Linked DNA regions of Homo sapiens: all the other regions are reported to be linked to region 1. The links are microRNA targets in miRTarBase. Many come from high-throughput screens and were not tested one by one. Region 1 holds a microRNA gene; each other region holds the end of a gene's coding sequence.
Evidence for each region. The annotated mature microRNA hsa-miR-6743-5p reads AAGGGGCAGGGACGGGUGGCCC and lies in region 1 at 912-933, shown strand. An mRNA with a match to its seed (bases 2 to 7 or 8) in the 3' UTR can be bound and repressed. Matches are read on the target gene's strand: a 7mer-m8 pairs with bases 2 to 8, a 7mer-A1 pairs with bases 2 to 7 and ends in A, and an 8mer does both.

Region 2: miRTarBase lists CCDC106 as a target of hsa-miR-6743-5p. Seed matches in the 3' UTR shown: 7mer-m8 at 478-484 and 7mer-m8 at 501-507.
Region 3: the mRNA of CAPN15 is a reported target of hsa-miR-6743-5p. Seed matches in the 3' UTR shown: 7mer-m8 at 779-785.
Region 4: the mRNA of MFGE8 is a reported target of hsa-miR-6743-5p. Seed matches in the 3' UTR shown: 7mer-A1 at 2,693-2,699, 7mer-m8 at 2,576-2,582 and 7mer-m8 at 2,346-2,352.
Region 5: miRTarBase lists PGAM4 as a target of hsa-miR-6743-5p. Seed matches in the 3' UTR shown: 7mer-m8 at 445-451.
Region 6: miRTarBase lists SZRD1 as a target of hsa-miR-6743-5p. Seed matches in the 3' UTR shown: 7mer-m8 at 373-379.
Region 7: the mRNA of IL31RA is a reported target of hsa-miR-6743-5p. Seed matches in the 3' UTR shown: 7mer-m8 at 388-394, 7mer-m8 at 2,057-2,063 and 8mer at 2,666-2,673.

What each region holds. Positions count from the first base shown.
Region 1 is chr11:208,430-211,689 of GRCh38, forward strand. It overlaps MIR6743 (microRNA 6743), which reads left to right and starts at 907; the gene lies at 907-977. It overlaps RIC8A (RIC8 guanine nucleotide exchange factor A), which reads left to right. Exons shown (of 10, transcript NM_001286134.2): 1 at 1-509; 2 at 842-889; 3 at 978-1,571; 4 at 2,142-2,233; 5 at 2,770-2,920. The coding sequence starts at 426. RefSeq lists enhancers at 1-485, 560-1,147 and silencers at 1-191, 192-481, 552-661.
Region 2 is chr19:55,652,332-55,655,591 of GRCh38, forward strand. CCDC106 (coiled-coil domain containing 106) reads left to right here. Exons shown (of 5, transcript NM_001370470.1): 5 at 99-830. The coding sequence ends at 415. U2AF2 (U2 small nuclear RNA auxiliary factor 2) reads left to right here and starts at 2,704. Exons shown (of 12, transcript NM_007279.3): 1 at 2,704-2,822. The coding sequence starts at 2,774. RefSeq lists an enhancer at 1,830-2,499 and silencers at 2,550-2,599, 2,690-2,739, 2,950-3,089.
Region 3 is chr16:553,037-556,296 of GRCh38, forward strand. CAPN15 (calpain 15) reads left to right here. Exons shown (of 14, transcript NM_005632.3): 13 at 1-5; 14 at 303-1,600. The coding sequence ends at 480. Among named protein-coding and RNA genes, the nearest start is that of PRR35, 5.7 kb to the right of the region's middle.
Region 4 is chr15:88,896,511-88,899,770 of GRCh38, forward strand. It overlaps MFGE8 (milk fat globule EGF and factor V/VIII domain containing), which reads right to left. Exons shown (of 8, transcript NM_005928.4): 7 at 3,146-3,260; 8 at 2,173-3,022. The coding sequence ends at 2,885. Among named protein-coding and RNA genes, the nearest start is that of HAPLN3, 2.6 kb to the left of the region's middle. RefSeq lists enhancers at 868-1,162, 1,099-1,148.
Region 5 is chrX:77,966,027-77,969,260 of GRCh38, reverse strand. It overlaps PGAM4 (phosphoglycerate mutase family member 4), which reads left to right. Exons shown (of 1, transcript NM_001029891.3): 1 at 1-1,312. The coding sequence ends at 387. All of the region lies in intron 1 of ATP7A (ATPase copper transporting alpha), which reads right to left. Among named protein-coding and RNA genes, the nearest start is that of PGAM4, 2.0 kb to the left of the region's middle.
Region 6 is chr1:16,394,669-16,397,928 of GRCh38, reverse strand. SZRD1 (SUZ RNA binding domain containing 1) reads right to left here. Exons shown (of 4, transcript NM_001114600.3): 4 at 1-2,891. The coding sequence ends at 2,789. It also overlaps a transcript of SPATA21 not described here. Among named protein-coding and RNA genes, the nearest start is that of SZRD1, 29 kb to the right of the region's middle.
Region 7 is chr5:55,916,858-55,919,857 of GRCh38, forward strand. IL31RA (interleukin 31 receptor A) reads left to right here. Exons shown (of 15, transcript NM_139017.7): 15 at 1-3,000. The coding sequence ends at 263. Among named protein-coding and RNA genes, the nearest start is that of IL31RA, 67 kb to the left of the region's middle.

The sequences.
Region 1 (3,260 bases):
CGAACCCAATGGCCCAGGACTGAAAATTCCTTTCCACTTCGGCTTTCCCCTCTACATCCCATCGGTTCTGTGGAGCTCGAGGGGCGTCACTGTGTGTGTGGCAGGGCACGGTGGGGGCTGAGATCGTTTCCTGTTGGAACTTCTGGCCCAAGAAGCGCGGGTCACAAGGAGAGGGGTCAGTTCGGTTCAGAGCGACTCAGCCCCTCGACTCGGGTCTTAAAACCTCCGAGCCGCCAGTTCTGCCTCAGGCCGCGCCCCCTTAAAGCGCCACCAGACGCTGCGCCCCGTTAAAGCGCCACCAGACGCCGCGCCCCGTCCCGGCCTCCCCCGCGCGCTGGCGCGGGGCTTTCTGGGCCAGGGCGGGGCCGGCGAACTGCGGCCCGGAACGGCTGAGGAAGGGCCCGTCCCGCCTTCCCCGGCGCGCCATGGAGCCCCGGGCGGTTGCAGAAGCCGTGGAGACGGGTGAGGAGGATGTGATTATGGAAGCTCTGCGGTCATACAACCAGGAGGTAAGCGGCCGCCTGAGGCCGGGGGGCGGGCACGGAGGGGGTGGGGCAGGGTCGTGCGCGGGTAGCAGGGAGGGCGTGGGTGAGGCAGAGGCTGTGTCAGCAAGCGTAGGGGACGCGGCGGGGTGCGGGGGGCAGGTCTGGGATGCAGTGTTGCGGGGAGAGTGGGGGTGCACCCGTTGGGTGGCAGGCGTGTAGGGATGGGGGCGAGTGCCGACCCTGCCATCCGTTCTGAGCAGTGGCTGCTGCCTGAGTTAGAGGCCAATAGGCCGCCCGCATCAGCGGACGCGGATCCTACCCCTCTGTGGATTTGAATTCACTAGTTCTCTCTGCAGCACTCCCAGAGCTTCACGTTTGATGATGCCCAACAGGAGGACCGGAAGGTGGGTGCTGGCCCAAGGGGTAAAGGGGCAGGGACGGGTGGCCCCAGGAAGAAGGGCCTGGTGGAGCCGCTCTTCTCCCTGCCCACAGAGACTGGCGGAGCTGCTGGTCTCCGTCCTGGAACAGGGCTTGCCACCCTCCCACCGTGTCATCTGGCTGCAGAGTGTCCGAATCCTGTCCCGGGACCGCAACTGCCTGGACCCGTTCACCAGCCGCCAGAGCCTGCAGGCACTAGCCTGCTATGCTGACATCTCTGTCTCTGAGGGGTCCGTCCCAGAGTCCGCAGACATGGATGTTGTACTGGAGTCCCTCAAGTGCCTGTGCAACCTCGTGCTCAGCAGCCCTGTGGCACAGATGCTGGCAGCAGAGGCCCGCCTAGTGGTGAAGCTCACAGAGCGTGTGGGGCTGTACCGTGAGAGGAGCTTCCCCCACGATGTCCAGTTCTTTGACTTGCGGCTCCTCTTCCTGCTAACGGCACTCCGCACCGATGTGCGCCAGCAGCTGTTTCAGGAGCTGAAAGGAGTGCGCCTGCTAACTGACACACTGGAGCTGACGCTGGGGGTGACTCCTGAAGGGAACCCCCCACCCACGCTCCTTCCTTCCCAAGAGACTGAGCGGGCCATGGAGATCCTCAAAGTGCTCTTCAACATCACCCTGGACTCCATCAAGGGGGAGGTGGACGAGGTGAGCACTGACCTTAACCCATGGATGGGTCTCAACTCAGCTCCAACATTTCCTGGACCTGCTTCCTACTGGGTACCTTCAGGTTTCTGGGTGTCAGACATGGAGAGGACAGGACCTCCCAGCCTGTTGGGACAAGGCCAAGGAGATGCCAGTTCTGGGCTGGGACCTCAGGAAAGGCTTCTGAGGGAAGTAGAGGCCCCTTCTGGCTCTTGCTGCCTGGCAGGAGGGCTGTGTGGTGTCTGGGGAGACTGTAAGAGATCCTCCACCATGAGGCTGTGAGTGGGGCTGAGACAGAGTGTGACTTCATCCCTAAGGTATGTGTTAGCATTCCTAATCAGGGAAGTGCTCTTAGAAGAATACTCATGGAGTTTTTAGGAAGACAGCAGTGGTCATCTTTTGCCCCCAGCACTACCCAGAGTCACCTAGGAAGACCCCAGGGGACCAGGTATGCAGTACAGGAGGTGCACAGTCATTGCCACACAGTCCTGGAGTGCAACAGACAGTGGAGCCTCAGCAGGCAGCAGTGGGATGAGTGGGGCTCCTCACAGGAACCCTTCTTTCTTTGGTCAGGAAGACGCTGCCCTTTACCGACACCTGGGGACCCTTCTCCGGCACTGTGTGATGATCGCTACTGCTGGAGACCGCACAGAGGAGTTCCACGGGTGAGAATGGGGCTTTTTCTGGGAGGGAAGTGTGCCCACATGTCTAGATGGTCGTCCTCAACCCCGGCTCTGAACCAGAACCACCTGAGAGCCCAGGCCCCACCCTAGAGAGTCTGACGTTGTCTGGGTGAGTGAGACTGGACATAGCCATGAATTTGGGGGCAGGAATGTGCCAACTGGGCCTTGGGTAGTGGCAACAGTATGGTACTTACTAGGGCACATTGGTTCCTTGTCCCCGTTTTTGGTCTACCTGCCCCTAGGCTGGTCTGGGTTTCCAGAGATGGTCTGGCGCTTTGGCTCAGACAGGGTCGGGGAGGCAGTGTGTCTCAGTGCCCCCACTTCCCCAGGGGACCCCACTGTACAGCTGAGTGGCAGTGCCTCTCAGATCAGTCCCTGCCCTTGGCTTTGGTCCCTAGCGCTGCCCCTTTGGGACTCAGATGCCAGCTCATGTAATGTGTGGTTCAGCGGAGTCACAAAGATTGCACCTGTGCTCAGGGATTAGCCCTGTTGAAACCCCTACCTCCATCTGTCCCCAGCCACGCAGTGAACCTCCTGGGGAACTTGCCCCTCAAGTGTCTGGATGTTCTCCTCACCCTGGAGCCACATGGAGACTCCACGGAGTTCATGGGAGTGAATATGGATGTGATTCGTGCCCTCCTCATCTTCCTAGAGAAGCGTTTGCACAAGGTAGGCTGGGGATGGCTGTGCAGGCTCCCCCAGTGGCTCTGGCACTGGTTCTCCTGCACAGATGTGGTCAGTGCTTCCACACTGTCCACACTGGTACGTGGAGATTGTCTTGGTGGTGTGATATGGGCGACTCTTCCGGTTGTTCTGTGGTCCAGCCTGGCAAGAAGCCAGACCCTTCCTCCATGAGAAGCATGTGGACACCTTCCACACACTTGAAGGTTTCACTTCTTAAATCTTTGGGGATCTTTACTGAGTGGTCCAGAGAAGCCCCCCAGTCCCTACTTTTAAGTCTTAAACACAGGCAGCCCTTGATTACAAGCATAGTTGTCCCTCAGCATCC
Region 2 (3,260 bases), not on the chromosome of region 1:
CGAGATCCTTTCTTCCCATGGCCGTTTCCCTTCCCGTGTCCGCCCCCTCAGTCTTGTGCCCTGCCCCTCACTTTCGTGTCCCCGCCTCCACCCCTCAGTGAAGGACGCCGACGGGGTCCTCTGCCGGTACAAGAAGATCCTGGGCACCTTCCAGAAGCTCAAGAGCATGTCGCGGGCCTTCGAGCACCACCGCGTGGACAGGAACACCGTGGCGCTGACCACGCCCATCGCCGAGCTGCTCATTGTGGCCCCCGAGAAGCTGGCCGAGGTGGGCGAGTTCGACCCCTCCAAGGAGCGCCTGCTCGAGTACTCCCGCCGCTGCTTTCTGGCCCTGGACGACGAGACGCTCAAGAAGGTGCAGGCGCTCAAGAAGAGCAAGCTGCTGCTGCCCATCACCTACCGCTTCAAGCGGTGATCGCACCACGCCTCCGCGCCTCCACCCGGGCCTTCCTCCCCCGTGGACCCCGGTGGATGACCTGCCCCTCTCCCCGCCGCGCCCCTGCCCCTCCTCCTCGCTCCCTGGGTTGGGGGCTCCCTTAGCCGGGCCCCCAAGCGCGACGGCCCCGGACCGGCCGCGGCCCCTTCCCGAACGCCGGCACCCCCTTCCGCTTGGGCTGCCCAGCCCTGTCCTCGCCGGGCCCCTTCCTCCTGGAAAACCAGGCAGGCGGGTGCCCCCCCCTCGAGTGGGGGACTGTACAGACCCCGTCTCCGCCCTGGCCCCGCGGAGGAGCTGCCCACCTGATTCCCGGACAGACCTCCCCAACTCCGCGTGAGACAGAGAATTATTCAGATAATTTAAATTAAAAAACGACGTGAAAATTTGGAATAAACTTGGCCTCAGCCTCTTCCTAGGAGGGGGACGTGCCTGGGAGGGGGCGGCCGTCGCCCCGAAGACGGTGACGGGGTTGCGGGGGCTTCCAAGGGGGTGGGTGGTCAGGCGGGAGGACGGGTAGGATACGGTGTAATTAGCCCCCCGGAGGCAGAGATGGAGAGTGAAGCAGCTGCGCCCCAGAAAACTCGGAGGCAGAGCTCGGGAAAAGAAGCGCGGACACAGCCGGGCGCGGTGGCTCACGCCTGTAATCCCAGCACTTTGGGAGGCCGAGGCAGGCGGATCACGAGTTCAGGAGATCGAGACCATCCTGGCTAACACGGTGAAACCCCGTCTCTACTAAAAATACAAAAAATTAGCCAGGTGTGGTGGCGGGCGCCTGTAGTCCCAGCTACTTGGAAGGCTGAGGCAGGAGAATCGCTTGAACCCGGCAGGCGAAGGTTCCAGTGAGCCGAGATCGCGCCACTGCACTCCAGCCTGGGCGACAGAGACTCCGTCTCAAAAAAAAAAAAAAAAAAGTAAAAAGAAGCGTGGACACTACCCGCTGGGCTACCCAGACCGGAGCGCGGCGCGAGAGGCGTGAGTCGATGACCTCTAGCGAGGGAGGCCACCTAGCGGCCAGGCCAAGTCTGGAGGATACTTCCGTTGGGCCGCCAGGGGGCAGTAACGCCAGATCATCTGTCTCCCGGAAGTAATGCCAGATGATCCGTCTGCCGCGCCTGCGCGGCGGGAAGAGCCGGAGCGCGTTGATGTGGTTGCCGAGACAACCAAGAGGGTGGCCGGATTTAACGGCTGGGGATTAAGCACTTTCACCGTTGTAAGGGAAATCTCGCGCACGCGCAATGGGGACTGAAACCTGGTCCCCGCAACCCCCTTCACGGGAGCAGTGGGAGAGCGCGCCACAGAACGACTTTTACGCAGGCGCAGAAGCCTGTTTCCCCTCACCCGCGGCTTCCACCCTGCGCAGGCGCAAAAAGCCGCGCTGGCAACCTCCGCAGCGGTCGCGCGCACCCTTCATCCCTCTTGCTGCTTTTGTCTGGCACAACCTTCTCAGGCCCTCCGCGAGGCCGGCCCTTTTTTTCTTTCACTTTCCCCACCCGGAGAGCCAGGTGCCGAGAACTAGGACCTCGTCCCCTTCTCTATCCCTTCCCCTGATCCATCTCGTCTCTGTTCTCCTTCCCTTTTCCGTTCCCGAAGCCGGAAGGAGCCGAGGTACCCACGGAAAAAGTCGAAGCTGTCCCCGGAGAGTGAGGCCTTCACGAAGCGGTGGCGGAAGGAGCCGAAGTTCTCTGATCGGAGGCGTGAGCAAGTGGCATCTCCGGAAAGAGCCGAAACACGGACTCGAGCTTAATCCCAGGAGGGGCCCGAGGGCGAGATCCGGAAATCTCCGGAAAGAGCCGAAGGCCGGGACGGTTAGGATTGTCGGAAGTGGCCGATTGCTTGGACAGGGCCGGCGGAGAAGATCGGAGCAAGTCCGTGGAAGAAGCCAAAGACTGGGACGGATTGAATTGTTGGAAGAACCCGAACTCGCAGAGGGGACTGGGCGCAGTGGCACACGAGGACACACGGAAACCTCCGAACGTTGAGGAGATAATCTCGGAAAAGTTACGGAAACCTGGGAAGTCGGCGAAACCCTACGTTCGGGTGTTTTCGGAAGCAGCCGAAGCGGCCGCCTGCTTCGCCTTCGTCCAGTATCCGGAGATAGCCGAGGCGCTTCGGAGCCAGGCTCGGGGGGAGGGGCAAGCTCGCGGGCGGGCGGGCGGGTGAGGGGGCGGAGCCCGGGCGGGGCGGGGAGGGCTGCCGGAGGCTTGATTAGGTAGGAGGTGGCGAAGCGCCGGCGGCGGCCGGAAGTAGCCGAAGCCAGCGGCGGAAGTAGCCGAAGCGGCTGGAGCGGGCGGCAAGGCGAGGCGAAAGCTGCACAGGGCCCTACGCGGCCGCCTCAGCATGTCGGACTTCGACGAGTTCGAGCGGCAGCTCAACGAGAATAAACAAGGTGAGGGCACCGGGGTCGCGGGGCGGAGGTGTGGGCGGCTCCTCGCGTCGCTCTTTGCCCCCCCGCCATTTTCTCCCTCGCTTCCCCCCACTTCACGGCCGCGCGGCGCCCCCCAACCCTGGTTCCGTGGCGCGCGCCTCGTTCACGTGACGTCCCCAGCGTTCCGCCGCGCGCTAGGCGAGGGGAAGGGGGCGGCGGGGCGCGGGCCCGTGACGCATGCGCACGGCGGCTGTCCCTGCGCCCCACGTGGTCCTGGCGGAGGTGGCGCGGGGGACGCGGCACGAGCGCGCCAGATGCCTCGACGTGAACTTTTGTTTTTTAAAATCTTTTTGGTTTCTCTGAAAAGGAGATTATGTTAGTCCCCGTAATCTCTTTTCTCCCGCTGCCTTGGCACTTCCGCTTCCGGTCGGGCCCACGGCAGCGTCTCCACGCCCCCTT
Region 3 (3,260 bases), not on the chromosome of region 1:
CACAGGTGCGCCCCCGCCCCTGCCCCCCCACCCCTGCACAGGTGCCCCCTCCCCTACCCCGCTGCACCCACACCCAACTCGTGCCCCCCCACCCCTGCACAGGTGCCCCCTCCCCTACCCCGCTGCACCCACACCCAACCCATGCCCCCCCCACCCCTGCAGAGGTGTGCTCATACCCCTGCCCCCACCCCTGTACGGGTGTTTGTCACCCCACTCCTGCTCCTGCCCCTGTACAGGTGGGCACAGCCCTGCCCCCATCCCCACCCTGCCCTCCACAGGTCCTCACCGGTCCCCTCCCCCAGGCAGGTCCTGGTGATCTTGTCCCAGCTAGAGGGCAACGCCGGCTTCTCTATCACCCACCGCCTGGCACATCGCAAGGCAGCCCAGGCCTTCCTCAGTGACTGGACAGCCTCCAAGGGGACCCACAGCCCCCCACTCACGCCAGAGGTCGCCGGTCTGCATGGGCCCCGACCGCTGTGACCACCATGCCTGGGGCAGGGGCTGTGCACAGACGGACCCCCCACCCCCACACGCACTTTATGAGGGAGACCCCGACAGAGGACGCTTGAGCCAGAATCTCAGGACCCCGCCCAGGGAGCTGCCAGCCCAGGGCTCAGCTTCCCATGGGCCCCCCGCCCCCCTCCTTCCCCTCCCTGAACCCCACAGTCCGCCTGGCCAGGCCTCCTGGCCGCCACGCAGAATACCTCGAACCAGGCGGGCTGTGAACCAGCCCCGCTCACCTGCCAGCCCCAACACCCGACGGGGGCCGAGGCCAGGCTGCCCCTCCCTGTGGGCTCAGGGTCTCCTGCGGGCTAGGCAGCCAGGAGCTCTGTCCGCAAAACCAAATCTGGGTGTCAGAGGCCAAGACCCTGGGGTGGGATCAGGGACCACCCCTCACGGGGCATAAGGTCAGTTTTCCCCCAGAGCCCGGGTCCCTGTCCCCCACAGGGCAGGCGGGGTCCCTGGAGCCCTGGTGTGGAGCGGCGAGTCCCGGGGCGGTGCCTGTCTCAGAAGAAGGGGCCCTTGGCCAGCCCCCCAGCGACACTATGCAAATCCTGGAGTGCCCGCCAGGATCGAAGCCATGACTGGGTGCAGGCGGGCGCCAGGCCCGCTGTGGGTGGGCACCAGTTCTCAGCACCGCTCACTGCTGCCGGGCACACTGGGACCAGCAGGCTCCTCAGCCAACCCTGTCCCTCGGCCCGGCCCTGCCAGAGAGGGACCCCAGCACATCGTGGGCACGGGCAGGGCTCAGCCGCTCCCACCTCCCCACAGAAGCCCAGGAGTGTGTGGACGTCTGAGCCCAGCTTTCTGCGTGCCCTCCTGGCCCCTCACTCCCGGCAGCGGGCCGGCCTCGCCCCCACTCCCCCTCCTACCCCGGCAGGGGCTTCCGGGGCCTTTTCACCTGGAGAAACATTCCCACTCCCCTTTGGCCTCCCTGTACTCTGAGCTGTGAATATTTTTAACCCTGTAAATACGGCCAGCTCTTGTGACACAGAGACTATTTTATCAATTGTCAGTCCCGTTCCTTTACCATAGGATTCTCCACAGTGGCTTCCGACTCAGGCTCCAATGGACCAAATAAAAGCGTTTTGTTTTGTAATCACGCCTCCTCCTCCTGCTGTTGCCCCGCGCAGGGCCCTGTGGAAGGGCGGGGAGGTTGCAGGTCTGAGGGGTAGGCCCTGCCCAGGCATCCCGGGCAGGCGGACGGGTGGGGGCCCCTGGAGATGGCCGTGGTGGGGTGACTCACAAGCTTGTAAGGGGCAGCCGGCCCTGCCAAATGGACGCAGCCAGGAAGGACGGAGTGACTGGGCGGGGGCAGGGGTCAGACCCTGCGGCCGCAGCCCCAGGGCCGGGAAGGACTGGGCAGACGGGACAGCAGCGCATGCAGCTTCTTCCAGCGAGGCATCCGCACGGGGGGCTCTGTCTGAACCCATCAGTCACCCGGCAGGAGCAGATGGAGTGAGGGGGCGCGTGGGGAGAAAAGTTTCCTGTCCCCTCCCAGCCTCGTCCCAGGGTGGCCTCTGCCCCCACACGGGTGCTGCTGAGCAAAGCGCCCGCTCGGAGGCTCTGCTGTCTCCCTGGACGGAGTTGGGGGCTGGGGTGCGGCCGGCGCGGGGTAAGAGGCTGTCACGGGCAGCGTATCGAATGTGAAAGCAATTAAAGCCACCAGCAGTGTTCGCTCCGGGCGGGCCTCGGGCGGCGGGGAGCTGCCAGAACACATCTCACCTCGGTGCCCGCGGACGCCGGCCCTGCTGCTCCGCGACTGCGCCACGTCACACTCCTCCTGTGGGTGGGGGCCGGGCTCGTGCCCGCTCCTGTTTGGCACAGAGCTGGCTCTGTCTAGTCCTGGGGTATCTGGGACCCCCGTTCCTCCCGAGACCCTGCTCCTCTGTCCCTGGCCCCACCCCCACCACCACCCACCTCTCTGGCTTCTGCCACCCCAGTCCTGGGGTGGCCCAGGACAGAGGCCCACAAGAAGGACCCTCCTTCTTGCAGGAGTCCCGCACAGCAGGCAAGGGGTCCGTGCCCACCCCCTCAGCTGCCCAGAGTCCCCACTAGCCCAGCCAGCAGCCTCCTCTCCACTTGAAAGCCCCCGGGAGCAGCTCCCACAGGGAGGTGATGAGGGAAAGGGGGGGCGTCTGCAGAGGACTCAGGGTCCCACAGCACAGACCCTGCCAGGTGTTGGGCCGGGGCCACGTGAGGGGCTGCTGCGGAGGCCTGGAGGAGGCGGCTGGCAGCAGGTAAGGGGAAAAGATGCGAGCGTCCTGCAGGCAGCAGGGAGGATTGGCTGGGCAGGACACACAGCCCTGGCGCGGGGCAGACCTTGGTGGCAGCTGTCGGGGCTGACTCCTTCCCACTGTCACTGCCCGGCCCCCGCCCAGCCCTCCCCTCCCTTCTCTGTGCAGGCCTCTCCCCTCCCCCGCATCTCCTCCTGGGTCTCACCCCCACCAACAGCACCATCTCTCTGGTGTATCTGGTCTGTCCCAGCCCTGTGCCCCCACGGTGCCCTCTCCTGGCCCCTCTTGTTGGCGCTGCTGGCCACAGCCTTCCCGGGGTGGGCAGTGGCAAGTTCTCACTTATGAGGCATCGCTGTCAGAAGCATTTAGTGTACAAATTAGCCGTGGCCTCCTCGCCTCCTTCCACAGCTCTGGGCTCCAGGCTGACTGGGCCGCGGCTCCAGGCCCTCTCCCGCCTGCCCGGGGCGCACTGCTGCCCAGTGTGGACCCCTGGCTGCCTGCCCATGTCCTGGCAGGAGTGCC
Region 4 (3,260 bases), not on the chromosome of region 1:
TCAGGATGCCTCTGTTTGGACAGGGTGTTTTCTTTCCTGTCCAGACCAATGGGGGCCCTGGCCTGGACAGCCCGATGTTTCCTCAGCAGAAAAGACTAAGGAGGTCCTTCAGCTTTGGCTGGGGGAAGGGTCGAAGGGTCACAGGGTCACAGAGCTCAGAGCCTCTTCCTAAACACAGCTCAAGTTGGCCCATGAGTGTGTGTGTGTGTGTGCATGTGTGTGTGTTACACACAGCCAGGGGCACATTGGAGCACAAAGAACTGTGATCAACAGGTAAACTACACCTAAAAGGAACGCCAGGCTTGATGGGCAAAGGGGAGCCAAGGTAGGTCCCTCTGCAGGTTCCCGACAGGGGAGAGGATGGACAGTAGGGAGAGCACATTTTGCTACAGTTAAGTCGAGTTGAACATGCCAGCCAGGGGTAGGGGTAGCCAGCAGGTGGAATCTGAACGCTCACCCTCTGCCTTGCAGTGGGGCAGAAAAAAGTCAATGTGTAGGGGTGATGGTAAAAGCTGGGCAAATGGAAGACACTGCTGAGGGAGAGAAGCCAAGGAAGGAAGGAGGGGGTCAGGAGTGAGGGGACTCCACTCCAGGGTCCCAGGAGGGGGACTTTTAGAAGGCTGTGGCCAACCCATCCCAGAGCAGAGATGCTTCTCCCACTGTCTGCTTATCCCCAGGGTATGCTGGAACAGGGGTTCAGGGCAGGAAACTCCCCCGGGAGGGAGACCTGAGGCTTGGAAGCACGCAGAAAGGCTTGGCTCTAAACCCAATCCACACCGCTCCGCAGAAGAGAGCTCTGAAACGGGAGGCAGTAGGCCAAGGGACACCCAGGGGAAGGGAGTCCCCCATCCTCAGTTCCTACGAAGACCACGGCCTGGGCCTTTTATTCAGACCCTGCTAGGCCCAGGAGCCCAGCAACCGCAGGTCTCAGAAAGGAACCACTTCCAGACACATTTCCCTGATGTGGTTCCAGCAAAGCCACGCCCTCCCTTTGGCAGCCCTGTGGCCCCACCTCCTGCTGCTCAGAGGCGGCCCCACCTCCTGCTGCTCAGAGGCGGCCCCACCTCCTGCTGCTCAGATGCACCCCCTGCCTGCAGAACACAGCCGGCTCCCAAAGTTTGGAAAAATTCACCTTGACAAAGAGGGTGGTTTTTCCTACACCCCTTCCCAAGCTAGCCAAGCCTCTGCCTGCAAGTCACCCTTCCAGATCACCAAGACACTGGCCCGCAAGGCCCACCCCCACTTCTTGATGACCCCCACACAGGGGAGGGCAGAGAGGGTATCCCTGGAGCACACACGCCAGTGGCCTACCAGGAACCAGTGTGTTCAGGCAGGAGGCCTCATGCCCACTTGGCAGAGCCCCGGCCCCCTCCTCCAGTCCCACGCTGCACCCACCCCAGGAACTCCCGCAGTTCGGAAGGCATCCAGGTTCACTGAGTTTCTTATAGTTTCTCCAGCCCACCACTCCAGTTGCAGAGAGAATGGAAACTGCTGAAGGGGAAAACCAGCTGCCCCAGCCAGTCTTCCTGGCAGGAAGGGAGCAAAAGCATTCAGGAGACAGTGTCTGCCAGCACTCGCTGGGCCCCTGACCAGGCAGCAGTTGTAGGGCTCAGGGCCAGACGGCATGGAGGTAGAAAGCAGAGGGAAGAGGGGAAGTCAGGTTTTGAGGACCTGGAAGTCCTGACTTCCTTCAGGCCGCCCTGGACCAAAGTCTCCAGCCTCCTGCTATGAAGCTATGTGTAGTCAGGCAGGTGACATAAAGAAAGATGGGGCTGGGCACGGTGGCTCACGCCTGTAATCCCAGCACTTTGGGAGGCCGAGGCAGGTGGATCACAAGGTCAAGAGATTGAGACAATCCTGGCCAACACGGTGAAACCCTGTCTCTACTAAAAATATAAAACTTAGCTGGGCATGGTGGTGTGCACCTATAGTCCCAGCTACTTGGGAGGCTGAGGTAGGAGAAATGCTTGAACCCAGGAGGCAGAGATTGCAATGAGCCGAGATCACACCACTGCACTCCAGCCTGGCGACAGAGCAAGACTCCATCTCAAAAAAAAAAAAAAAAAAGCAAGCAAGCAAGCTGGGGCTCAGGGAGGACCACAGGTGGGGGATGGGGAAACCAGCGCAATTTAAATCCCATTCCCATGAAACAATAACGAACCACACCAAGAGTTCCCGTGAAGAAGATAAATATATTTTGGAAGCTGCCTGTGTCCTCTGGGGTGAAAAGCCAGCATAGAGGGCCCCAAACGCCCACCCTGCCAACCCATGCCCTCCTCTGACCTCGCTCCCTTTCTCCCCATAGACCCGCCCCACCCCCTTCTGTGTCGCTGGGCTTCAGGACAAGGGGCAAGAGAGGCAACCAGGGAGACAAGGGGAAGTGTCTTGGGGACAGGGGGCCACAGCAGTTGTGGCCACATGGTACCCCAGGGCCGACGCAGGGCCGACGGGCAAGAGGCTGTTATCTCCAGCCTGGCGCTTCCGGGCCTTTCTTGAGGCCACCATGGGAATGTGATGTGTGAGAGAGGGGCTAGGAGAGACAGAGACACACGCACCTGGGATCGGCGGTCCGGACAGGGGCAGGGAAACCACACGCCCTACTTTGCCCTTTCCTGTCCATCCCAGACCTACTCAGATCCCTCAGTGCCTAAGAAAACAGGACAGTGAGGACTGGGGGTTAGGGGACGGGGCTTAGGGGCTGGGGCAGGGCCCGTGAGAGGTGGAGGGTGGGAAAGAGGGAGGGAGGGGTGACTGTGTGGTGGTGCTGCCTCTGAACACCCTCCCCTTCCCCAGTCCCCAGCCCTATGGTGATTTAAAGGGGCTGAGAAGCCAAGAGGCAGCGGGCCCATGGAAAGCAGGAAGACCTGGGGGTGGCAGGTGGCCACTAACAGCCCAGCAGCTCCAGGCGCAGGGCGATGCGGTTGTGCCAGGCTACAGGCAGGATGCGCACATAGCGAGCCAGGATGGGCGTCTCAAACAAGTTCTTCTTGTGGGAGTGGTTGTCCCAGTTGCCAGGGAAGATCTAGAGGCAGAGCGGGTGTCAGGAGGACCCCGAGCCAGCCCCCCTCCCCTCAGAGCCCCAGGCCAGACTCCCAGGGAAGTAATGAAGGAATGGCAAAGGGTGGGCAGCTGGACAGACACCCACCTTACTGCTGCCAGTCCTGGGGTCCTGGTACTCAGTCCAGTTCGCACTGTCATTACTGTAGGCAACCTTGTAGGATGCCACAAACTGGACAGAGCCAAAGTTACGGGCCCCCTGG
Region 5 (3,234 bases), not on the chromosome of region 1:
GAGCCCGACCATCCTTTCTACAGCAACATCAGTAAGGATCGCAGGTATGCAGACCTCACAGAAGATCAGCTACCCTCCTATGAGAGTCCGAAGGATACTATTGCCAGAGCTCTGCCCTTCTGGAATGAAGAAATAGTTCCCCAGATCAAGGAGGGGAAACGTGTACTGATTGCAGCCCATGGCAACAGCCTCCAGGGCATTGCCAAGCATGTGGAGGGTCTCTCTGAAGAGGCTATCATGGAGCTGAACCTGCCGACTGGTATTCCCATCGTCTATGAATTGGACAAGAACTTGAAGCCTATCAAGCCCATGCAGTTTCTGGGGGATGAAGAGACGGTGTGCAAAGCCATAGAAGCTGTGGCTGCCCAGGGCAAGGCCAAGAAGTGAAGGCCAGCGGGGAGGATACTGTCCCCAGGAGCACCCTCCCTGCTGGTCTTGTCCCTCTGCCCCTCCCACCTGCACATGTCACACTGACCACATCTGTAGACATCTTGAGTTGTAGCTGCAGATGGGGACCAGTGGCTCCCATTTTCATTTTAGCCATTTTGTCGCCTGCACCCACTCCCTTCATACAATCTAGTCAGAATAGCAGTTCTAGAGCACAGGTTCTCAGTCTAAGCTGTGGAAAAGCTCCCCTTATCCAACAGAGTTTAAAAGTAGTGACTTGGGTTTTTGTGAGTGCTTTGTTTACTAAGGACTTTGGGGAGGAACATGCTAAGCCACGACCAATGAGGAGAAGCAACAGAGCCTGTCTGTCCCCATGAGCAGAGTCTGTCCTCTGCTCTTCTGCAGTCAGGCCACTGCCTGGGGGCTCTAGTCATTCCAGTGGAAGATGAATGTAATCTGCATGGTGATGTGACAACTGTTTCCTCCTTGACCCCAGAGGATCTGGCTCTAGGTTGGGATCAATCCTGAATTTCGTTATGTGTTATATTTACTTTTATTAAAAAAGTATAGTATATATTAATAATACAAAACAATAACCCTTCTGGGGTTTCTTGTGGCGGTTGAAATAGTCCCACATGTGGTCATCAGAAAATAAGCCATTCCTCATACCAATATAGGATCAGCTCCTTGACCTCTGAGGGGCAGGAGTGCTTCCTGGTGTGTGTATTAGAATCCCTTCCTGCCTTGTTTCATGGCAGTGAAATGCCTCTTGGTCCTGTCCAAGTGTGTCTTTCACTGATTTCTGAATCATGTTCTAGTTGCTTGACCCTGCCACATGGGCCCAGTGTTCATCTGAGCATAACTGTACTAAATCCTTTTACCAGATCAGTATAATAAAGGAGTGATGTGCAATTAAAAAAAAAAAGTATTACAACATCATTTTAGTTTTGGTGAGCTCAGAGAAACTTAAGCAGAAAATGCTGAACCATGCCCGCTGCTACTAACAAAGCAAGATGATTAATGGACTCTTGTAACTTCTCCAACTAATTTCTGTGGAGCTTTGAACAATTAGACCACCCAGTCTATGGTATTATGTTATGGAAGCCTGAACTAAGACATATGCATTCTTTTTTAAATTGGGATATAATTCACATGCTATAAAATTCAGCCTTTTAACCTACAGAATGGGAGAAAACATTTTGCAATCTACCCATCTGACAAAGGTCTAATATCCAGAATCTACAAGGAACTTAAACAATTTACAAGAAAAAAACAACCCCATCAAAAAGTGGGCAAAGGATATGAATAGACATTTCTCAAAAGAAGACATTTATGCGGCCAACAAACATATGAAAAAAAGCTCAACATCACAGATCATCAGAGAAATGCAAATCAAAACCACAATGAGATACCATCTCACACCAGTCAGAATAGCAATTATTAAAAACTCAGGAAACAATAGATGCTGGTGAGGCTGTGGGGAAATAGGAACGCTTTTACACTGTTGGTGGGAATGTGAATTAGTTCAACTATTGTGGAAGACAGTATGGCGATTCCTCGAGGATCTAGAACCAGAAATACCATTTGACCCAGCAACCCCATTACTGGGTACATACCCAGAGGAATATAAATCATTCTACTATAAAGACACATGCACACGTATGTTTACTGCAGCACTATTTACAATAGCAAAGACTTGGAACCAACCCAAATGCCCATCAATGATAGACTGGAGAAAGAAAATGTGGTACATATACACCATGGAATACTATGCAGCCATACAAAGGAATGAGATCATGTCCTTTGCAGGGATATGAATGAAGCTGGAAACCATCATCCTCAGCAGACTAACACAGGAACAGAGAACCAAATGCTGCATGTTCTTGTTCATAAATGGGAGTTGAACAATGAGAACACATGGACACAGGGAGGGGAACATCACACACCGGAGCCTGCTGGGGGGTGAGGGGTGAGGGGAGGAAACTTAAAGGATGGGTCAATAGATGCAGCAAACCACCATAGCACACATGTACCTACGTAACAAACCTGCACGTTCTGCACATCTATCCTGGTTTTTTTTAGAAGAAATGAAAAAAATTCAGCCTTTTAAGGTATCCAGTTCAGTACTTTTTAGTACATTCACAAGGATGTGCAACCATAATGACTATGTAGTTGCAAAACATTTTCATTACTCCAAAAAGAAATCCCATGTCCATTAGCAACACTCCCCATTTCCTCTCTACTCACAGCCCCTGGCAAACACTAATTTTATTTCCTATCTCTACGGATTTGCCTATACGGCCATTTCATATAAATTGATTCATTCAATATGTGTCCTTGTGTGTCTGGATTCTTTCACTTAGCATAATGTTTTCAAGGTACATTGATGTGTAAAATGTATCGGTATTCCATTCTTTTCACTTTCTTGATGGTGTCCATTGAATCACAAAAGCTTTTAATTTGTGAAGTCCAATTTATCTTTTTTCTTTTGTGTTTTTTGTGTCATATCTAAGAAACCATTGCCACATTCAAACTTACGAATATTTACTGCTATGTTTTCTTCTAAGAGTTTTTGTAGTTTTGGCTCTTATATTTAGGTCTTTAATCCATTTTGAGTTAATTGTTGTACATGGTGTATGGTAAGGATCTGACATACATTGTTTTACATGTGGATGTCCTGTTTTCCCAACACCAGTTTTAAAACATTCTTGAGATGTAGTTCACGTATTATATAATTCGCACATTTAAAGTGTAGAATTCAATAGTTGTTAGCATATTCACAGACATGTGCAACCATCACCACAGGCAATTTCAGAACATTTTCATCACCTAAAAACAACAACAACA
Region 6 (3,260 bases), not on the chromosome of region 1:
CCAGAGGTTTCTTGAGTCTCTGCTTACCAGGGAGGCTGGGTACAGCCCTGCCAGCCCATCCCTGAGCAGGGCACCCCCAGATGGGGCAGAGCAGGGTATGGCTGGGCAGGGCAGGGCTGGGCGGGGCAGATGGGCTCTGGAAGGGGCTGATGGTAGCAGATAGGGTGTTGCCTCCTGCCTGCAGGTGGGGAGCACCCTGATTGAGTGGGCTGAGAAAGGTTGGTCACCAGGCCTGGACCCCCCAGCTCCTTTGGTTATAGGCTGACATCAGAGTAGTGGCTCATGGGAAGCGGTTAGCTGGAAGGTCTGAGGCCTGGCCCATGGGGTCAGGGAGGAGCTGGGGGAAGGGGACAGTACCGTGAAGGCAGATAAAGGGGCAGCAGCCTCAGGTTTCTGCCCCCCATCCCCCTGGGGTTTTCCAAGCCAAAGCCTGCAACTTACTTTAAAAAAGAAAAGGAAAAAAAGCACTTAGGAAAGTTACAGACAACTACCCCCAAAAAATACCCTCCCACACACAAAATCCAAACCGTTTCCTCATCTCCCTCCCGCCTCCCCCGACACAATACAGTTTCCTGTTTTCTTTCTTTTTAAAAACGTTGCCTGCTACCTCTCCATTTGGGAAGCCCAGGGCATGACTGCTGGTGGGTGGTGACAGGCACACAGCGGGCAAAGCCCATCTTTGGCCAGAGGGAGGTGGGAGGACCAGTCCCTGCCACATCCTCAATCCACAGACACCCACCAGCCAGCCTTTACTTTGGCCTCCCACTAGAGGGTAGTGGGGCAAGAACAGGTGGTCCCAATGGCTGGGCAATCAGCACTTCTGGCGTTCCCACCTGGACTACCTCTATACCCTTCTCCAATTAAAAGGAAAGTCTCACTTTGGGCGGGAAACCACTATTACATAAGGGATGGACACTACACATTTAGAATGTGGACACTTGGTTAGGGCAGTGGAACTATAAAGATAGCAGCCAGTTTTCTTCCTTGCCTTCTCCTGAAGGTAATCCTCCCTCTTACTGACTGAAGCTCTGGTTCCAGCTCTGCTCATGGGCAATGCCTGGCTTTACAGTTATAAGGCTGTGCTATGGACTAGCTGCTGACTCAGCTGGCAGCTGGCCCTTCCTCCGGAGGAGAGGACGTGTTGGGGCATGGCTTACTGGGCCTGGCCTACCATTCCCACAGGGAACCAACGAGGGAGTGAGCCTGTGAGACTCAGCTTGCCACCTTGGCCACCACGTGCTGCCCTCATCACAAAAACCACACCAACCACTCCGAAACGTATCTGCTGGTCAGGAGCAGGGAGGCTGTCTGGCTGGCTGAGGGATAAGGCGCAGTGCAACGGAAGGGATCAGGAAGCCTGAGAGGAGCCAGGTACACACAGCTGCTCTGGGCAGCTGCCCTCTTAGTCTCTTCCACCTCAAGGAGCCAAAGCAAACCCCAGGCTCCAGGGACAGAGGATAAACTGCCTTCATTCCAGGCCCTCGCTCTGGAAAAAGGGGTGACGGGTAGCCTAGGCCTCTGAGGAACCAGTCTGTCATCAATCTTTGCAAAGCAAAGCTGTTCTTTTTCCAACTTTATTCAGAATGTTCTGCCTTCAAGGTACTGATTGCACACAGGAAATGTACCAGGTATAGTTACTGAGCTGGGGCCACCAATGGAGATGGAGCACTGCAGACCCCTAAGAGTTCAAGCCATGCTGGAGTGGGAAGACCTATCCACCTTCTGAACATACGAGGCAGAAGGCTCAGAGTCCTGGAGGCAGACTCTCTCCTGGTTTTCCTTGTGCTGATGGCAAAATACTAAACAAGTCTTCTCTCCGTCACTTCTAAGCCCAGGGATGCAATCTCACTCCCTGGCACTCTGCTTTCTTCTAGAAGTAGTAAGCCTGGCTGGTAGGGAACCACCCTGAGGGGTATGGGAAGGGGAAGTCGGTTCACTTTCCCTATCTCCCAAAATACTAGAGGTGGGGTTGGCACCCTCCCCAGGCTCTCCGAGCCTACAGAGCTAGCCCAGTCTCCAGGCAAGGCCCAGATGCCCTGGGACTTAGCTCGGGGAGGGAGGTATAGGCATGGGGTGCTCGTCTGTCCTGGCGGCTGCAGAGCCCTGCCCCTTTTCTGGGCGGCAGTAGGAATACAGAAGCTAAGCTCACCAAAATCCTATTGGTTAATGTTTCTAGTGAATTTCCCAGAAACATTTTTAAGTAGACTACCAAACTACCCTTTCTTAATTAAAAATTCATTAAACCACTAAAACCCCTCCCATGCACTTTTTCTTGCAAATCAGATATTTGTATAAACAAACAAAAATAGGAAGAAAAAAAAAAGAAAGGATATTTTCAAATGGAACTTACTTTTTAAGTGATGGAGACATGCACTTGGGGGTGGGTGGGTGTGAGTTTTCATTTGTGTTTTGAAATCCCAAATTAATGAGCATGATAAACTGTTATTGCTGGCACTGGCTTTACCCCAAGTGGCCAAGTGGCACTGTCTGACTCTCTGAGTCCTTGCTGGGTCCCCCCAACCTTCCCCTAACCCCCACCCTTTCCCTTTCCATTGACTTGGGACAGCCCTTGTCGATGTGCCAATCACAGTGGGAAGGGGGAGAAGGGGGGAGGTCACAGTGCATGGGGTTCAAGGTCACAGTGGGCGGAGCAAGGGGGATCACAGTGCAAGTAAGTCAGGTCGTTCCCTCTGCTCAAGTCCAGCTGTCTGCCACGGCAGTGCAACCCGTGGCGGACGACCCAGGAGGCGGTGACGGCAGCAACGGCGGCATCTTTTCTTGCCTGCATTTATCTGCGCTGTTTGAAGCCTTGAGACCCATCAGGACCCAAAGGCTGTCTGATCACATTATTGGGCTGCCTGCTGTCTTCGGGTTGGGAGATCCTGGTTGGCCTGAAAGGAAGAAAAGCAGAGGAAGGCCTGAAGAAGGATATAATAGATGTCCCCCATCATTTCTTTATTTTTTATTTATTTTTGAGACGGAGTCTCATTCTGTCACCTAGATTGGAGTGCAGTGGCACGATCTCCGCTCACTGCAACCCCCACCTCCTGAGTTCAAGTGATCCTCCTACCTCAGCCTACCGAGTAGCTGGGACTACAGGCATATGCTACCACACCCAGCTAATTTTTGTAATTTTAGTAGAGATGGGGTTTCACCATGTCGGCCAGGCTGGTCTTGAACTCCTGACCTCAAGTGATCCGTCCACCTCGGCCTCTCAAAGTACTGGGATTACTGCACCTGGCCTAGATGTCCCCCATCTT
Region 7 (3,000 bases), not on the chromosome of region 1:
CTGATTGTCCCCTGGGGAAAAGTTTTGAGGAGCTCCCAGTTTCACCTGAGATTCCGCCCAGAAAATCCCAATACCTACGTTCGAGGATGCCAGAGGGGACCCGCCCAGAAGCCAAAGAGCAGCTTCTCTTTTCTGGTCAAAGTTTAGTACCAGATCATCTGTGTGAGGAAGGAGCCCCAAATCCATATTTGAAAAATTCAGTGACAGCCAGGGAATTTCTTGTGTCTGAAAAACTTCCAGAGCACACCAAGGGAGAAGTCTAAATGCGACCATAGCATGAGACCCTCGGGGCCTCAGTGTGGATGGCCCTTGCCAGAGAAGATGTCAAGACTCGGCACGCAGCGCTTGCTTGGCCCTGCCACATCCTGCCTAGGTTAAAGTTTCCCCTGCCCCTTGAGCTGCCAGTTGAACTTGGTCGGCAAAGATGCGACCTTGTACTGGGAAGAAGGGATGGTGATAAGCCCGAGTTTTGTAAAGGAACAGCAGTCTCTTTTCGTTTGTTCAGATACCAAGCTCTCACCGAGGCCTCCTGACAGATTGACTTTGAAGGAAGGGCCCAGGTTCTGAGCCCAAAGGACCCCCAGGGTGGACATATCTGGCCTCCCAGGAATTGGGTCATGGTCCCAGCCTTTGCTGGGGCTGAGCCTCAGAGTTCCAGAAGGCCTTTCCCTGCTGCCAGAGGACAGTTGTTTTGTTGGCTCTTGGGTGGTCTGGTGGGAGCCTGGGCTCTGGTCTTCCCCTACAAGGTAGCCCTGAAGCCTTCCTCTCTCCCCATAGTTGGGGCTGGAGGTGGAGTGGACCTTCCTAAGGGGTTGTCTGAGGCTCCTCACATCCTCTTAGATCTCAAGTGCCTGTAGCAACACCGCACCTGAGAATCCTCACCCCCAATTTAGACTGCATTGACTACTAAAAAATCAAGGAATGGGGAGGGCCCTGGGGAATGTATGCTGCCGGGCGCAGCTCTGTCCAGTCTCCAGGGGGCCACTTCCCAGCTGCTGCTGCCCTTCTATTCAGCACCCAGCCTGGGAGCAGAAAGGCACCTGACATTGCAGTGGTTGTCATATAGGGACGCTGGCCCCTCACACTGGTTCAGAGCCCAGGAATGCTTACTTAAAAGGCCTCTTCCCGGAAGCAGCAGGGCAGGGCCTGGGAACATGCAATGCCTAGCAAATTTGCAGCCCCAACAGGAGGACTTCTGCTCCTTTTCTCTAGCTGAGCACAGAGCTTGTGACAGTTAGTGGAGCCTTTCACGAAAGTGTGGATTGCTGGCTTCAGCACTGAGATAGTACTGGGCTCCTCCTGTAACTATAGTGACAGAGTCAGCTGTGACTCCCTTGACCTTTGTGGGAGGCCACTAGGAGGCTGGTGAGATCAGGGCAGGCGAGGCAATGAGTGAGTGGCCCAAGGTGCAGTGAACCCAGCACTTGCCAGCCAGGAAGGCTGATGGTATTTTTTCTAGGAGAGTTTGAGGAATCAGTACTAGGATTGCAGGCATGAACTTCGCAAGCCACCCACTCAGGTGTGCAAAACATCACTTTACTTTCCTAAAACTAAAATTAATTGCCAGCCTGAGACCTGACACTTCAAAGTAACCTCAGCCCAGTATGATGATTTCTGAGTTGCCGTAGGTTTGTGACTCAGTCACATTTGGGGTTTTGCCCTCCCCTGTCCTGCCTGGGACTGGCTCTGAGTGCCGAGGATGTTCAATGGCGCAGCGTGCATGGGGCAGAGTTGGTCACTCAGTGGCATCCTCTGGGTCATGTATTTGTCCGGCCGTGTTTTTGTCTCTGGCCTCGTGTGTTTACTATGGTCCCTCCTGTCCCTGTTGGGTCACCTACCACTTACCTTAGCCAATTGCTGCCTCGTTACTGTGGGCACAGGAAGGTGTGGCTGCTCTCTCAAAGCTCTGTCCTCCTAACATCTCCAGCGGCTGCAGCCACCCCCCCACCACCCACCCAGGACTCAGTACTCCTGGTTTACGGAACAGTGACTTCTGGTACACCAAGGAATGAGGGAGGCCCGAGGCAGGGCACTGGGGAATAAGACTCTAGGGCAATGCCCCTGTCCCGTTGTCCTGCACTCAAGTCCAGGTGTAGGAAGGGACCAAACAAAAGAGATGCGTCCAATTCTCATGCCGCCCCTGATGTCTGCTCTCCCTGCTCTCCCTGTTCTCCACCCCTTCTATGGTGTGGGCTCTTCTGTGAGCCCACTGTCCCCAGAGTTCCAGATGGGGCCTTTGGCAACCCCACCTTCAGATTCATGAACATATGGGGAGATTCTAGCCTTGCCTCCTGTCTTGGCCCGAGGATGGGGGAGGGCACGGGTACCCCCACAGCTGTTCTTTCAACCCTCCTGCCCACCTGTAGTTGGGGGAATTTTCTCAAATTCTGTGGGAGGTGGGTGAGAGGAGAGCCTGGAACAAGTTCTCCCAAACTTGTCTGTCTCACACCTGGATGTAGATGAAGCTTCTGAACCTAAAATCTAAGAATTTGATGGGAGAGAAAATGGATCCCCAATGGCTCCTGTGAGTGGATTCCAGAGATAAGGATGTTGCCCTCTGGCCCCTGCTCCTTCATCATCAAAGCTGGAAGCGTCTTTTGCTGGACAATTTGCAAATCCCCACCCAGCCCTTCCTGTTTCATTTCTTCTTTCCTTTCTCTCCTCTTGCCCCTATCTTGTGCTTTGTTTTCCCCCACTGCCAGAGCTTCTCATCTTTTAACACTTGCTATTGTTTTCTTGTTTCTTTTCATTCCTTTCTCCCCTTCCATCAGCCTCCTTTGATCATTTTCCATGGTTTTATTACCTTTGAGGGGTGGGAAGATGGTGGCTCTGTTTCTTTCTAGGTGAGAGGAGCTGTTTCTATGAGTCCCCAAAAGGCACTGGTGGGCCACACCTTAGCTCTCCTGAGCAGGTTCACAGGATGTGAGCCTCAGAGTTCAGGGCGCAGGTGACTTCCTCTCCTGGATCGAGTCACCAACTGTCCCCGCTCTGGGCACCAGG